4 separate regions of the Homo sapiens genome follow, and all the other regions are reported to be linked to region 1. Evidence: microRNA targets listed by miRTarBase, many of them from high-throughput screens and not tested one by one. Region 1 holds a microRNA gene; each other region holds the end of a gene's coding sequence. Distances are between the middles of the regions.

Region 1 (4,228 bases):
AGGCAGCTGAGGGAACATTGACAAGGTCACCAGGGATGAACCAGGGCTCGGGCCCTTACCTTACAGTTGTGCCCATCAGCAAAGGCTGCGGTTGGCCCCTTCGGTGGACAAGGTTCAGACCCTCCGAGGGCGTAACCAAGGTGTAGATGTTGATGTAGAAATTGTTGCTGCATGCGCATTCCCTGCTTAAGTGGCTGAGTACTGTGTGTTCAAAATCTGCCCATTCCCATCCGGGACATAATTTGGGCCGTGGGGTAACCTCCCAGGAGTGTAAAAGGCTCTGGGACAGGACCACAGAAGATCCAGGGGGCTGTGCTTGGTGACCTAGAATGCCCTGGAGGAGACCTGGGTTCTTACTGGTAAGAGCAGTGGGTACTCTGATGAGAGGGAATTTGGGGGTCCTTTTCTTTACCAAAGGAGATATATTGGGGCCCTTTTCAAGCACGTTCAGGTCAGGAGGACACAGGTGCTCCATTGAATGTTTGCACCAGTCTGAAATTCTAGTTCCCAAGGGCCTCACTTGAGTCAAGACCTTTGGAGTATGAGGGGCAGGAGCCAGGGACTGGACCCCGCTGTGGAAGCAGGAAGGCCTCAGAGGGGAGTATTTGGAGGTTCTCTCACTCAGTTTTTCTAGAGAAAGGATGATTCATAAAGGTGAGGGTCGAGTCTAGAGACCCTAGTTTGGGTGAGGGGACAGTTGGGTTGAGGGAGGTGTGTGGAGGGTATGGGCCAGCATATCTGGCTGGTCTTAATTTTGAACCCTACCTGCATTTCATTGCTGTCAGTATTTCCTTCCAAGTTGGTCAGAGGAGTGAGGGGAGAAGTAGGGGAGGGAGGATGGCAGAGCTTGGGGATTTTTAGCTCATACCTTCTCTCCATCCCACCTCTCCTCTGCCCCAAACAGTCCCTTCCAAGGAATGTCCTGCAGCCATGGCTGGGGAGCCAGGGCCACCCCTTCTTCCCAAGTCCCCAGCTGGGTTACTGTGGGACTCTGGGTGCCCTGGGTCCCCTTTCACTCAAGTCAGACTCATGGTACAAAACCTGAGGATGAGGACAGTAACACCCACGTGTTTGGATGGGGCATCCTCACTGGACAACATCAGGACTGTGCTTGAGGCAATGATAGTCATTTGCCAATTGGTAGGGCATTTGTCAATGACTCTGTCAGCTGGCAAGATGTGTGAATGGGGAATTTCCAGTAAGGCAGTGATTTGTCAGCTGTGGGATAATTTATAACTAGAAAGCCCTGGGCAAATAGCAATTAGGAATCAGTATAGGAAAATGTTTTAAAGTATTGGCTGGAGAAATTATTCAGAGGTTACGGTTGATAATGCAGGTTCAGTGACCATTGCTGCTGTTGCAGATCATCAGTGCTAATGCCAATGTTGAGAATTACTACCAGTACATCAGAATTTAAGTAAAATATAAAAACCCAACATTTGGCATCCCTCATCCCCACTGGTCCCAGGGTGCTCACACCAGGTCATCAGCAACATGGGTTTGTTCCCAGGCACTACACAGAAACAGTGTCTGCTGGGTGGTAACTCTTTATTTCATTGTCCGGAAGAAAGATGGGAGTGGGAACAGGGTGGACACTGTGCAGGCTTCAGCTTCCACTCCGGGCAGGATTCAGGCTATCTGGGACCGCAGGGACTGCCAGGTGCACAGCCCTGGCTCCCGAGGCAGGCAGGCAAGGTGACGGGACTGGAAGCCCTTTTCAGAGCCTTGGAGGAGCTGGTCCGTCCACAAGCAATGAGTGCCACTCTGCAGTTTGCAGGGGATGGATAAACAGGGAAACACCTGGAAGGGAGGAGGGAAACATCTCTGAGGGCTTCTCCCTGCCTCCCCCGTGGAGCAGAACTTCCTCTCCTCAGCTTTCAACACTGAGCCGCTGGGGAGACTTGCTCTCACCCCACCTAAGTACATACCCCAGGACAGCCCCTCCCATTGAGGGAAATGTCACTGGGTCCTGAAAGGTAACAGTAAGCCAGTAAATCAGTGTCCTGGAATGGTGGCTGGGGAATAGGCCCTGGGGGTCAGTCAGGCAGGTCGCCTGTGGAATTGTCCCAAAGGACAGGGAAAAACTGGCAGTAGTAAGGGGCCCCACCCGGTTGGCGGCTAAGGAGTTTAAGCACAGGAATAGCCAGTGGGGCTTCAAGATAGTCACTGGGCTCAGAGGCCATCAGGAGCCATCAGGGAACAGGCTTGGACTAGCCAGGAGGTCAGTGTAACACCCTCTGGTGTCTGGAATAGTCAGAGCTGCAGAGCAACAAGCAGATGTGCTGAGGAAGGGTCAGTGGGATTAGGGAACAGCACTTTGGGTTCTTGGAGAACATTCTGGGGAACCAAGAAACAATCCCGGGGGCTCAGGAACGGGGAGTGGGATTACAGAATAGTCACAAGGGAGAATTAGAGGGACCAGGGAGGGACAGGTGATCACACGGTATTGGACACAGGGAAAGGGAGCAGCCAGAATTTGTAAGGGAGCAGTCTCGGGCTTGGGGAAATAGCAAGAGAGATCAGGGACAGCCCTTAGGGTTGGGGAGCAGCCACAGGGACACAGAATAGCCAGAGGGAGCAAGAAACAAGCCCACGATTTAGGGAATGGCCCCGGGAAGGATCTCCCGTTGGAGGTCAGGGTCCAGGCACTCACTGTGCATTCCTCACAGCCAACAGTGTAGGTCTTGGTGAAGCCCCGGCGCTGAGCTAAGCTCAGGCTGTTCCAGGGAGCCACAAAACTGCAGGTAGTGATGTGCAAGAGTCCATCCTGCAGTTTTCCTAAGGAGAAAGGCGGGGCGGGGACCGACAAGCAGCTTGTGATTGGCTGAGCTGCCAAGCTGCCAAAGGCCCGGCCTTCTGATAGACTGAAATTGGGGTGGTCCCCATTTCCAGTGGGACCATTCCCATCAGAGCCTCGCCCCCTCGTGGTTGCTAGGCCGCGCCCCAGGGACTGGTTGGTGTGGCACAGGGCGCGGGGACGGTGCCTCACCAGCAATGAGAAACTCCTCGCTGCGGTTGTGGGACCTGTGGAAGTATCCGCAGACACTCTCCATGGCGGGGGTGTAGACGAACCGGATGTCAGCGGCATCCCCTAAGGCTTGGAACCCTTTATACATCTGTTGATGGATGAGGGGAAGTGTCTCTTTTACTGACATAATCCTCCCACTCCAGGTTCTTCCCTGAAGTCATATAGCATCCCAAGATCACAGCCAACTTTCTCGCACCAACCAGTGGCCAGAAGTTTCTGTTTTGACCAGGAGGAAGATGTTAGAAAATGCTGGGAAAGAGGCGGGGGCAGGGGATACCTTGGTCATCTTGATCTCATAACGCTGGTATAAGGTGGTCTGGTTGACTTCTGGTGTCCCCACGAACTTGGCCCTGATGACTGCAGGAGAGGAGGGAAATATGAGTCAAATGGACTGCATGAGCCAATAAAAATAAGATCATCATCATCATCATCATCATACCAGCAAAGCGCATACATAAATAGGGGTTATTGGATGCCAGACAGCACACAAAGTGATTTACACATTTGTTCATTGATTCATCTGTATGTTGAGTGTCTCTCTTTGCCGGGCACTGCTTAAGCCATTTTCATACATTGATTTGTTCATTTACTCCTCAAATATTTGGGAGTGCCCACTGTGTGCCAGACATTGTTCTGGGTGTTAGGGACACAACAGTGAACAAAACACAGAAATCCCTTTCCTTGTGGAGTTCACATTCTAGCCAGGAGGAGACAGGCTAAGAACAAACAAAATAAGGATATGGAATGTTAGACATTAAGTATAATGGGGAATTACAGACCTGGGTAAGGGGCTGACAAAGATTCTTTGCTTGACCAAACTTTACTCAGGCTCCTGAACCTCCTCCTAGGCCCATCTGTGCACTTCCTTGTAAAATCCAGTTTTAGCCGAGAGCCTTGCTAAGTCAGTTTAGCAAGAACCCCTATATTCTATATCTGATCATCCTCAATCTCTGATCATCCTCAATACCTGATCATCCTCAATCTCTGATCATCCTCAATACCTGATCATCCTCAATCTCTGATCATCCTCAATACCTGATCATCCTCAATCTCTGATCATCCTCAATCTCTGATCATCCTCAATACCTGATCATCCTTGCTATCTGACTGGGTTCTTCATCTTCCACCATCCCCCAGGTGATGTCTGATTCCCCTTGGCCTGCCTTCAGCAAGAATCCTGTTACGTCGGTTTAGCCAGAA
Region 2 (4,484 bases), not on the chromosome of region 1:
TCCCAGGTTCAAGCAATTCTCCTGCCTCAGCCTCCCAAGTAACTGGGACTACAGGCGTGCACCACCATGCCTGGTTAATTTTTTTGTATTTAGTAGAGATGGGGTTTCACCATGTTGGTCAGGCTGGTCTCGAACTCCTGACCTCTGGCAATCCACCCGCCTCGGCCTCCCAGAGTGTTGGGATTACAGGTGTGAGCCACTGCACCCAGCTGGATATCCTACTCTTAAGCTCAGGAAAGGGAACTTTCCTGGAGTCAATAACCTTATCCTCTGTAAAACAGTTAGAAGTACCTATCACTTAGGGTTCCAAAATGCATGAAGGGAGATTGTAAAGATGATGCACTTAACACTTCATGTCGTAATGCAAGGATGGTTATTAGATTGGGGGTAGTGTAGGAGAGAGGGAATCCTGCTTGCTTCTTGGCTAAAGAGACTTTCCCAAAAAATCTGGAAATATCCTACATTTCAGGTATTCCTCAGCCTTTAGTTCTGTCTTTCCTCCCAAGTAAATAATTTCCTAATATACACCTATCATTTTTTTTTCCAGTTTTTCACAGACCTACGGGATGGCATCATCTCAGATATATTTGATAAAAAAGAAGTAAGCACTTGAAAATCATCAGAATTTTATTTATTTCAATGTTTTATTTCTTACTATTGACTCTCACTGTCATTGCAGAAAACTCTTCTACAGAAATTACTCTCAAAGAAACCTGAGGATCGACCTAACACATCTGAAATACTAAGGACCTTGACTGTGTGGAAGAAAAGCCCAGAGAAAAATGAACGACACACATGTTAGAGCCCTTCTGAAAAAGTATCCTGCTTCTGATATGCAGTTTTCCTTAAATTATCTAAAATCTGCTAGGGAATATCAATAGATATTTACCTTTTATTTTAATGTTTCCTTTAATTTTTTACTATTTTTACTAATCTTTCTGCAGAAACAGAAAGGTTTTCTTCTTTTTGCTTCAAAAACATTCTTACATTTTACTTTTTCCTGGCTCATCTCTTTATTCTTTTTTTTTTTTTAAAGACAGAGTCTCGCTCTGTTGCCCAGGCTGGAGTGCAATGACACAGTCTTGGCTCACTGCAACTTCTGCCTCTTGGGTTCAAGTGATTCTCCTGCCTCAGCCTCCTGAGTAGCTGGATTACAGGCATGTGCCACCCACCCAACTAATTTTTGTGTTTTTAATAAAGACAGGGTTTCACCATGTTGGCCAGGCTGGTCTCAAACTCCTGACCTCAAGTAATCCACCTGCCTCGGCCTCCCAAAGTGCTGGGATTACAGGGATGAGCCACCGCGCCCAGCCTCATCTCTTTGTTCTAAAGATGGAAAAACCACCCCCAAATTTTCTTTTTATACTATTAATGAATCAATCAATTCATATCTATTTATTAAATTTCTACCGCTTTTAGGCCAAAAAAATGTAAGATCGTTCTCTGCCTCACATAGCTTACAAGCCAGCTGGAGAAATATGGTACTCATTAAAAAAAAAAAAAAAAGTGATGTACAACCACTTCGGAAAACAATTTGGCATTATCTAGTAAAGTTGAATCCATGTATACCCACATAGCTATCAATTCTATTCCTACATACGTGCTTACAAGAATGTCCATAAAACCCTGTTTATAATAGCCAAAAGAACAGGGAACAACCATAATGCACATCAAAAGAAGAATGGATTAAAAAAATTATATTCACACACAGGAGTACTATATAGTATTGAAAACAATTGAAGTACAGCTAAATGTAATAACGTAACACAATACAACTCTCAGAAACATAATGTTAAGCGAACAAAGCAGGTTTTCAGAAAATATATGCAGAATAATTCCATTTATATAAAGTTCCAGAGCATGCAAAACTAAATCATTTTGTATAAAAAACCCAACAAATGTGATGAGACAATAATGGGAAGGAAGGGAATGAGAAATATTAAATTCTGGATGGTGGTTATCTTTGAGGGAGGGGAATGATGTGATTGGGGAAATGGACTTTCAAAGGTAATGGTAACTTCCTTAAGCTGGATGGTAGGTCCACTAGTGTTTGCTGCATAGTTATACCTTTTATCTTAAATACATTTTGTATCTATTGTAACAACCACTTTAAAGACAACCGTGCTGTAAGGCAGTAGCTAAAAACAGAAAATAGTCCATCGGGAAGGGTAAGATGGCTTTCTGCTGAGCACAGGGCTAGAAGTGACAGCCCAGTGGGCCTTCCAACTATATGCCAGGGTGTTAGATGAGTAGAGAGGAGACCACCCAGGAAGTCTGGACAAGGGGTCTGGCATGAGCTCTGGAGAAGATATATTTGAGGAACATGGGGTATGCTAGTTTGTTGTCCTGAATTGCTGTAGAGAAGATAATTTAAATTGCATCTTAGAAGACGACCCTGAGGGTGAATTTCAACTTAGGGCAATTGTTTTAGTTTGTTTCTTATTGGTTTAAATGGATACTTGAAGCTGGATAATTTATAAGGAAAAGAGATTTATATGACTTACAGTTCTGCAGGCTGTACAAGAAACATGGCACCAGCATCTGCTTCTTCCCCGGCTGCTTCCACTCATGGTGGAAGGTGAAGGGGAGCCGGATGTGCAGAGATCATATGGCAAGAGAGGAAGCAAGAGAGCGAGGGAGAAGGTGCCAGGCTCTTTTTAAATAACCGGCTCTTGAGGGAACTAATAGATTGAGAACTCCTTGCTTCTCCTCCCCAGCACACCCCACCCCCAGGGACGGCATTAATGTATTCATGAGGGGTCTTCCCCCATGACCCAAACACCTCCCATCAGGCCCCACCTCCAACACTGGGATCAAATTTCAACATGAGATTTTGGGGGACAAACATGCAAACTATAGCAGCAACCAGCTACCATTCTAAAACTGCCATATGATTTTAGGATTTTTAAAAAGGGCCAAATTTAGGTTAAGCAAAAAGTGAAAATACAGTAAGAGAAAATAGTTTTATAAAGGCTTTAAAAAGTGTTCATAAAGAGCAGTTCATAGATTTTTCACGTAACGTTCATCAATAGATGCTAAAACTATTGGATGAAAAGCTATTGTGGAATAGGATCTTCTACAAGGATTTAAATATAATCCTACAGAAGAGGTATCAATTATACAGGGGAAAATGTACCTTTACAATGGTCACCACAATAACCAAGTGATTCAATTTAGCATCACCCAAGGTGGAACACCCTAACATTATGCCCCTCCTGATGTGACTTAAGAATTTTACCTATTTAGTTTTCTTGCACAAAGTGTTAAACTGGAATTTAATCATGAGGAAATTATTAGACAAATCCTGAATGTAGTCATTCTATAAGATGATTGACTTGGGCTTCTCAAAAAGTCAGTGTCATGAAAAAAAAAAAAAGGGGAGAGACTTGTAAGATACAATGACCAAATGCAATGTTTGAATCTTTATTGTATTCTGGATATTTAAAAAGACAAAAGCTGGACGCAGTAGCTAATGCCTGTTATCCCAGCATTTTTGGGAGGTCAAAAGGGGAGGATGGCTTGAGCATAGGATTTTGAGACTAGCCTGGGCAACACAGTGAGTTCTCATCTCTACAAAAAATCAGAAAATTAGCTGGGCATGGTAGTGTGCATCTGTGGTCCCAGCTACTTGGGGGGGTGAGGTGGGAGGATCACTTGAGCCTAGGAGGTCAAGGCCGCAGTGAGCCATGATCATGTTACTGCATTCCAGCCTGGGTGACAGAGTGAGATCATATCTAAATAATAATAATAATAAAAGAAAGCAACAACCCAGCAAACAGCTATAAAGATATCTTCGGGACAATTGAGAACATTTGAATATAGACTGCATATTAGATAACAATGCCAAATAACTGTTTTCTCAGGTGTGATAATAGTATATGTAGAAAATGTCTTTTTGTTTTGTTTTATTTTGTTTTTGTTTGTTTGTTTGTTTTGAGACAGAGTCTCACTGTGTCGCCCAGGCTGGAGTGCAGTGGCACGATCTCGGCTCACTGCAACCTCTGCCTCCCAGGTTCAAGTGATTCTCCTGCCTCTGCTTCCTGAGTAGCTGGGATTACAGGTATCTGCCACCACTCCAGGTTAATTTTTTCTATTTTTAGTAGAGACGGAATTTCACCATGTTGACCCAGCTGGTTTTGAACTCCTGACCTCAGGTGATTCACTTGCCTTGGCCTCCCAAAGTGTTGAGATTACAGGCATGAGTCACTGCACCCAGCCAAAAATGTTTTTTTAGGCAATGCATGCACAAACATTTAGAGGCCAAGTGTGTCATGATGTCTGCAACTTTCAATGTTCAGCAAAAATCAACATGGAGAGAGAAAGAGGGCACACATGTGGCAAAATATTAGCCATTGTACAATTGGTAAATCTAGATGACAGTACACAGGTGTTTGTTGTATTATTCTTTGAACTTTTCTGTAGATTTGGAAATGTTCTGCGTAGAGAGAAATCTTTTTTTAAAAAAACAATATCTGGTTTTGATT
Region 3 (3,000 bases), 6.4 Mb from region 1:
GTTTTGCACTATAGTAGTCCAAGGGTATTTACAGAGTAAGTCCCAAGAATAAGAGTATACATTTCCAGAGACTTCAGACCATGATTTTGAAGTTGTTTTACTATGTGAAAAGTTTTAACATACAGATCTTTTCTCCTTTCCCAGAATAACCATGTGCATGGACAGCCATATACAGGCCCAGCAGCACATCACATGAACAACCCTCAGAGAACTGGCCAACGAGCACAAGAAAATTATGAAGGCAGTGAAGAAGTATCCCCACCTCAAACCAAGGATCAATGAAATGCACATAATTAACTGGTTCCATCAAGACTGTGCACCCAGGCCTTACAGTCCAACCTTTTTCTGTGTCTGGCTAATATTTAAAACTAGAAAAACTATTCCTAATCAACATGGAGTGGAGAGTTTATTCACTGTCTTATCTGCAGAAATTTGCTGTCAATATATAACCCGCCTGCAGTGGAAAGTGTATAGTGTTTTGTAATAAATGGCCTGATGCTAATGTGTAAATGGCAAAGGTGTATATAGTATATTAATGTTGACTGTTAATTCTTAAGCAAGAAACTTTTTTCTTGATGAGACTCACAGATCTACACAAACTACAAAAGTTAATTTTCTTGTTACACCCACTGCACTCTGCAACCAGTGTTGCCTGCCTCATGGCAGTTGGATCAGCTCCTTTACAAAAAAGAAAAAAAAAAAACCAACAGCAACAAAACAGAGCCCATCCATGTCAGCCACACCAATAGTTTCATGTTAATTCTTTGCCACTGGAGTCAATTTTGCTATGAGCAATGTAAGGCTGGTAACCTTTAAATTATTTGGTTGATGTGGAAAATTGGTGATGTAACACTGTTTCTAGATTTTTTTCATTGCCTTTTTATTCTGATATTAGGTTAATCACTTTGAAGCTATAGTTATGCTGTAACATTTAGCATGGCTTCACACCAAGTTAGTGTAGCCAATGAGGAAAAAGTTACCATAATGACAGCAGTTGTCCGAGAAGTGACAGCTGTATTACTCAGAGCTTTTACTTCTTACACCTAGAATATTAAAATATAAAACAAGGGGAGAAATGTGACAGTCTATTTTCAGTTGCACATATGTTCCTTATATATAATGTTTGACAGTTCAATCTCTGGGTGGAATAAAGAACACTTACGTATCAGTAATGGGAATTTTTAAAGATTTAAAACAAATATGCAAAAATTTGCTATGCCAAGATGCTGGAGCATAATATAAGACTGTATTTGGTGTGCTTGTTTTGTTTCTTTGGTAGAGTTTATTAGGTGAATCTTCTAAAACTTTCCTTCTGTTGGATCCCAGTGACGTGGAAGTCATCAGAACCCCACGGTACTTGGAGTACCTCTCTGCACCAAGATAGCTGGCTGATTTTCTGCTCAGTCACAATTTTACTTGAAAGCAAGAATTGTCCTAGCTCCTTTTCCATTATTCCAAAACGTTTAACGTTCAAAGCAGGGTCTCATTAAAAAAGAAACTACTGGTTGATATAATTGAGATATTACAATTTCAGAATAAACATTTGATTAAAAATAAGGAAATCCTCAGTTCATACTGTATTTAAAAGAGAATTGGTAACTTGAATGTGTGTAATTTTTTGGAACCTGTCTAAAAACCAAATACCCCTGCAAACAGATACAGCCCACCCTATTCTATTTAAATATTTTGCTGTTTTATTTTATAGAAATTATTTTGCTGAATTCACAAATAGAATTTGATTTAAGAAGAACTTTTTGTCCTGTGGTGTGTTTTTGGTTTTTTTTTTGGTTACTTTTTTTGTCCTTTTTTTTTTTTTTTAAAAGAGGACTGCATATTAAAATTCATTCTGTGCATAGCATGCCTAGGCATGACACTGATTCAGGATTTCAGTCACATCAAGTTTTTGTGCACAGAAAGATTTGACCTTTGGCCCTCTACTGAAGATTTTGAGAAATCAGGATGTTGACACTGTAAAAGTTTCCTAACATAATCTTGTACTTTTTGTATGTTTTTTATATACATGTATATTTAATGAGCACAAGCTTGGTTGTATTTTTTACAATTCAGTTAATAGGGAAATGTTTTGTCAAAAGGCTACACTTGGAACTGAACAAAGCAGAAACAAAATTGAGCATTGCATTATTTTGTGATTAAAAGGGGCAGGTATTTAAGATAAAGCTTTGGGTATCTTATTTGTAGTACTGTATAGTCAACCTGTGCTTCTAGGTGTTCCTGTAGGACATTTTGACACCGATACTTTGAGTGAAAGTCACACACGGTGTTTGCAATTCCAACTGATTTTTGTTTTGTTTTTATTTTTTTGTTGTTTTCTTCTTTGAGATGGAGTCTTGCTCTGTCACCCAGGCTGGAGTGCAGTGGCACAATCTTGGCTCACTGCAACGTCGCCTCCTGGGTTCAAGCGATTCTTCCGCCTCAGCCTCCCGAGTAGCTGGGATTAGAGGTGCCCACCACCACGCCCAGCTAATTTTTGTATTTTTGTAGAGACAGGGTTTCACCACGTTGGCCAGGCTGGTCTTGAACTCCTGACCTCAGGTGATCTGGCCGCCTCGGCCTCCCAAAGTGCTGGGATTGCAGGTGTGAGCCACCGCGCCTGGCCCCAGTTGATAGTTTTTTTAATTTAAAAGTTCCTCAATTCCAAGCTCTTTAAACGAGTGAAATAGGTTAACTTTATTTGGATGAGTTAGGTGTACCATCTCACCATCTGAGAGGAGATTTATATATTTCCTGCTGCTCCTTAACAAAATATGTAATGTACTTAAAAACTTTAACGACTTCCTAGTTGAGAGAAAACTTGACATATAAAAGGCTGTGAATTTTTCTGCTTGGAGGAAGAGCCCAACCTTGGTTGCTTTGAAGTTACAAGCCCCCTTGTGCCAGGTGAGGGGCTTGTGAGTCATTTTTGTCTCCATTTGAGGAAGAGTGGTATTCGTTGTGACTAGGAGCAAGGGAAAGTGGAGTTATTTTTGTTTGTGCAAATTA
Region 4 (4,304 bases), not on the chromosome of region 1:
CCACCGGCGTGGCCTCTGGTGCGTCCAGTTCTCTCCCATGGACCAGGTGCTGGCCACGGCCTCAGCTGATGGCACCATCAAGCTCTGGGCACTCCAGGACTTCAGCTGTCTCAAGGTAAGTGGCGCTCCAGACCCTCCCCACTTCCCGCCCTGGTGACATCTCATGCCCTACCCCCCACCTTGCAGACATTTGAGGGGCACGATGCTTCTGTGCTGAAGGTGGCCTTTGTGAGCCGTGGCACGCAGCTGCTGTCCAGGTGAGTGGGCTGGGGTGGGGCAGCGATGGAGTGGGGGGTGGCGGGGGGACCTGCCTGACGCTGAGCCTCTCCCCACCCCAAACCCAGCGGTTCGGATGGCCTCGTGAAGCTCTGGACCATCAAGAACAACGAGTGTGTGCGGACGCTGGATGCCCACGAGGACAAGGTCTGGGGGCTGCACTGCAGCCGGCTGGACGACCACGCCCTCACTGGGGCCAGTGACTCCCGAGTCATCCTCTGGAAGGTTGTGGGCCCCAAGGGCAGGGAAGAGTCGGGGTGGAGTGGAGGCCCCATCTGACCCTAGTCTAACCCCAGGATGTGACCGAGGCGGAGCAGGCAGAGGAGCAGGCCAGGCAAGAGGAGCAGGTGGTCAGGTAAGGCCAGGGCAGTGGCGCCCCTCCCCGCATCAGCCCTGCTCTGTGCTGTAGGGAAAACGAGGCTGAGTGCCAGGCTCCCTGCCTGCTGACTCCGATGGCTCTGCCTGCAGCCCCAGCCAGCGGCCCTCAGTGGCCTCTCCTCCCCTCCCCACAGGCAGCAAGAGCTGGACAACCTGCTGCATGAGAAGCGGTACCTGCGGGCGCTGGGCCTGGCCATCTCCCTGGATCGGCCCCACACCGTGCTGACTGTCATCCAGGGTCAGTGCCCACCCCGGGGGGCGAGGGGCTGGGTCTTCGGACCACTGGGCTCTGCTTTCCCCAGCTCAGCCTTCCCTTCTCCCACAGCCATCCGGAGGGACCCTGAGGCCTGCGAGAAGCTGGAAGCCACCATGCTCCGACTGCGGCGCGACCAGAAAGGTTGGCGGCCAGTCAGGGTGGGTGGCCCGGTGGGCAAGGGCCAGTCATGGCAGATTGGCTGGGCAAGACGATGAGGGTCCTGTTGCCCACAGAGGCCCTGCTGCGCTTCTGCGTCACGTGGAACACCAACTCGCGGCACTGCCACGAGGCCCAGGCCGTGCTGGGTGTGCTCTTGAGGCGAGAGGCCCCCGAGGAGCTGCTGGCCTACGAAGGCGTGCGGGCAGCGCTTGAGGCCCTGCTGCCCTACACTGGTATGTGGGCACAGCCTGGGGTTGGGGGATCCTGGTGGGCGTGTGGACCACCCCCCTGACCTCCCTCTGTCCAACCCCAGAGCGGCACTTTCAGCGGCTCAGCAGGACCCTCCAGGCCGCCGCTTTCTTGGACTTCCTGTGGCACAACATGAAGCTCCCTGTGCCGGCCGCCGCCCCCACCCCCTGGGAAACCCATAAAGGCGCACTGCCCTAGCCGGTCCGGCCTCTCTCCAGTCCATCCTGAACCCCTGGAAAACCCATAAAGGCCGCTCTCCTGGCCGGCTCTGTCTCTCTGGACTGCAGTCCAGCCCCCCACCCTGGCCAACACCCTACCTAGCCAGCCAGAAGGGCACTGGAGCTGATGGTCTCGGCCCTGCCACGCCCATCCCGCACCCTGGCCTGGCAGAGATCCAGCCCGCGGCTCCGCACGCTTAGACGGTGGGGGTCATGCAGAACAAGCTTTACTCAGAGGAACAGCAAATGGCCCCCTCCCATCCCTGCTGGCCAGGGAGATCCGCCCTCCCCGCTCCTCCCCAGCCCTGGGATGGCGCGGTCCATCCCCTCATCGGGATCCTCGCGCTCACTGCTCCGTCGTGGGGTGCGGCACAGAGTCCACGCACCCTCGAGGGCGGCCCTGGCGCCGTGGGCGCCGCTCCAGGGCCCTGCGTGTGACGGTGCAGCAGCGGCTCTGGATGGCGCCCGGCGAAGGTCGGGTGGGCACGGTGGGGGGAGGGGCGGTGGCCTGGGAGGGTTCAGGGAAGCCCCGGGCCTCACCCGCCGGGTCGTCTCCTCCACGGAACCCCGTCCCGCTCAGGAGAGCGCCCAGCCCTTCCGGCCGCAGCAGCACCGCGGGGAGTAGGCCCGCCCGGTCGCCGTACCTGCGAGGGGCGGGGTGTGGTTAGGGCCCCGCCCGCCTCGGCTAGCCTGCCCTGCCCACGCCCGCTCCCGCGTACCTGCATAGCCACCAGCCGCGGTCTGACGTTTCCAACACGCGCACGCGCGCCCCCGCGGGCACGGACAGCTCATCTGCGCGGCTGCTCTCGTAGGCGCGGGAAGCACAGAACTGGGGACCTGGTGGGAGTGGGTGTTTGGAGTCACCGCGGGGCCACAGAGGACGAGGCCCGCCCGCACCCTTCTCCACATTCTCCTTGCTTGAGTCTGCTGACGGCGGGGCCGCTCTAAGACCGGTTCGGGGCTTCCTCTAGGTGCGGAGACCAAGCACGGGCTCCTGGCCCGCCCTGCCCGCGGTGCTTCTGGCCCAGTCTTGCCACACGGTCAAGCCGCAGTGGTGGCGTGAGGGGTGGGGTTAGGCGCATACCGCTGCTCCCTAGGGACGGGCCTCCCTCCCGGCCTTGGCCCGGGGCCGCCTCCTCCAGGTAGGGCGCTGGAAACCAGGCGGTCTGCCGGTCTTCGTTCTCCACCAGCCACCAGCCTGTGCGCAAGAAGCGGGCAGGGACTCAAATCTCGAGGCTCCCTCGGGTCCAGGAGCAGAGGAGCAAATCCCTGGGTTCTTGGGGGGCCCTACCTGAGGGGTGCCGCAGCAGCACGTCCAGGCTCTCCTGGGCCTGCGCCTGAAAAGGCCTATCCCGCGTGTCCTGGGTACAGAAGGGCTGCAGGCAGCGCAGGCTCTGAGCCTCCAGACTGTGGATGGAGAGGCGGCCCGCAGCGCGAGAAAGAGGCTGCTCCTCTGGGGTGGGCAGGATCACCCGGCTGGGAAGGGCAGCCCGTACGAGTGAGAGGTAGGCGGATGGGGAGGGTGAAACTGGGGGCGCCACCCCGGCAAGACCGCCAGCCTCCCACTCTCTGCCCCTATTCGCTGGCTGTTCCCCCCCACCCTGGACCTCTCCCAGCTCCAAACGCCGCTGCATGCTGGGAGTTTGGGGCGAGTCAGGCACCTGCCGGGTGGCAGCGCGGGCTCCAGGTCCAGGGGTTGCGGTGCGAAGAAGCCAGTGATCGTCGGGCTCCGTGCCACGCGCTCTGCAGTCGCCAGCAGCCTCCGAGAATAGGTTTCCAACAGCTGCAGGCGCGCCAGGCCGCGGCTCGTGCGCCCCACGCGTCCCAACAGTGGTGCATCTTAAGGCACCACAAAAACGTACTGTGATACGCCGCTTTGGGCTTCACTGGTCCCTGGCGCCCCCAGGCAAGCCACCGCCTTCCCCGCTCCCGTACCCAGGCTGGCCTGACCGAGAAGCTTTGGGAGAACGCGGTCAGATCTCCGCAGCAGGCCCGCCTCCACCGGGAAGGTCTCCTTGAGGGTCTTCTGAGGGCGGGAACCAGGGCATTGGTCTTCCAGAGCCCACTGTGCACCCTTGAGAGGGCGGGGTCCCTCACCCGGATGGCAGGGGCTGGGAGCTTCAGCAGGGACGAAGGGCCTCCAGTGGGAGTCACTGATGGGAGGCAGTCCAGTGGGAGGCAGCCGCGTGGGGAAGCCGCCACCGCGGCATCAGGGTGGCCCAGGGTCACTCACCTTGAGCTGCCTGAATTCGTCCCAACTCCTGCGCACGAAGGTGTCGCTGCCGTCTGACCAGCGCACAGAGAAGGCAAACGTCTGGGGGACAAAAAGTTGGGAGTGCCGTGGAGGTGCTGGTCCAGGCACCCCCTTCCTATCCCTTGGGGCCACTAAGGACCCAGCCAGGTCTTACTTGGAGCCTCTTGATCTGCACCAGGGCTGCCCCTTGCACTGAAACTGGGTATCGGGGGCCTGCCATGGCTGTGGCTTCCAGGCTGCAGATTCCTGAAATGGGCGAGGACCCTTCTGCCTCCCCGTGCTTGAGAGGGCTCTGGGGGACCCAGAAAACCCCCTGGGATAGAATCCTGGCAACACCTCAAGCCTGTGGGGTCCTTGTGGAGCCGCCCCAGCTGAGTCCTTTGCAGCTTTCTTGCTGTCCCCCAAGCCCACGATCTGGGGGCAGGAGCACAGGGATTGGGGGACTTCCAGGCAGAGCTGCTGGGAGGAAGAAGAAGAATGAGCTTTCCAGCCCTGGAGGCGTGCAAGACTGAAG

What was found. The annotated mature microRNA hsa-miR-4769-3p reads UCUGCCAUCCUCCCUCCCCUAC and lies in region 1 at 824-845, opposite strand. An mRNA with a match to its seed (bases 2 to 7 or 8) in the 3' UTR can be bound and repressed. Matches are read on the target gene's strand: a 7mer-m8 pairs with bases 2 to 8, a 7mer-A1 pairs with bases 2 to 7 and ends in A, and an 8mer does both.
Region 2: miRTarBase lists EIF2AK2 as a target of hsa-miR-4769-3p. The part of its 3' UTR that is shown has no 7-base or 8-base seed match.
Region 3: miRTarBase lists USP9X as a target of hsa-miR-4769-3p. Seed matches in the 3' UTR shown: 7mer-m8 at 660-666.
Region 4: miRTarBase lists TBL3 as a target of hsa-miR-4769-3p. Seed matches in the 3' UTR shown: 7mer-A1 at 1,703-1,709 and 7mer-m8 at 3,638-3,644.

What each region holds. Positions count from the first base shown.
Region 1 is chrX:47,584,093-47,588,320 of GRCh38, reverse strand. It overlaps MIR4769 (microRNA 4769), which reads right to left and starts at 892; the gene lies at 816-892. All of the region lies in intron 5 of SYN1 (synapsin I), which reads left to right. It overlaps TIMP1 (TIMP metallopeptidase inhibitor 1), which reads right to left. Exons shown (of 6, transcript NM_003254.3): 3 at 3,306-3,385; 4 at 2,990-3,116; 5 at 2,654-2,778; 6 at 1,532-1,800. The coding sequence ends at 1,630. RefSeq lists a silencer at 737-1,031.
Region 2 is chr2:37,103,591-37,108,074 of GRCh38, reverse strand. It overlaps EIF2AK2 (eukaryotic translation initiation factor 2 alpha kinase 2), which reads left to right. Exons shown (of 17, transcript NM_001135651.3): 16 at 548-601; 17 at 680-4,484. The coding sequence ends at 802. Among named protein-coding and RNA genes, the nearest start is that of GPATCH11, 21 kb to the right of the region's middle.
Region 3 is chrX:41,232,243-41,235,242 of GRCh38, forward strand. USP9X (ubiquitin specific peptidase 9 X-linked) reads left to right here. Exons shown (of 45, transcript NM_001039591.3): 45 at 145-3,000. The coding sequence ends at 282. Among named protein-coding and RNA genes, the nearest start is that of LINC02601, 42 kb to the right of the region's middle.
Region 4 is chr16:1,977,170-1,981,473 of GRCh38, forward strand. It overlaps TBL3 (transducin beta like 3), which reads left to right. Exons shown (of 22, transcript NM_006453.3): 15 at 1-115; 16 at 187-257; 17 at 345-501; 18 at 573-631; 19 at 789-892; 20 at 980-1,051; 21 at 1,144-1,302; 22 at 1,383-4,304. The coding sequence ends at 1,516. NOXO1 (NADPH oxidase organizer 1) reads right to left here and starts at 4,300. Exons shown (of 8, transcript NM_172167.3): 1 at 3,945-4,300; 2 at 3,770-3,850; 3 at 3,487-3,562; 4 at 3,198-3,375; 5 at 2,828-3,012; 6 at 2,621-2,734; 7 at 2,256-2,373; 8 at 1,748-2,180. The coding sequence starts at 4,010. The coding sequence ends at 1,883. RefSeq lists enhancers at 843-1,422, 1,423-2,002, 2,003-2,582, 2,583-3,160, 3,161-3,740 and 1 more and silencers at 2,147-2,266, 3,059-3,353.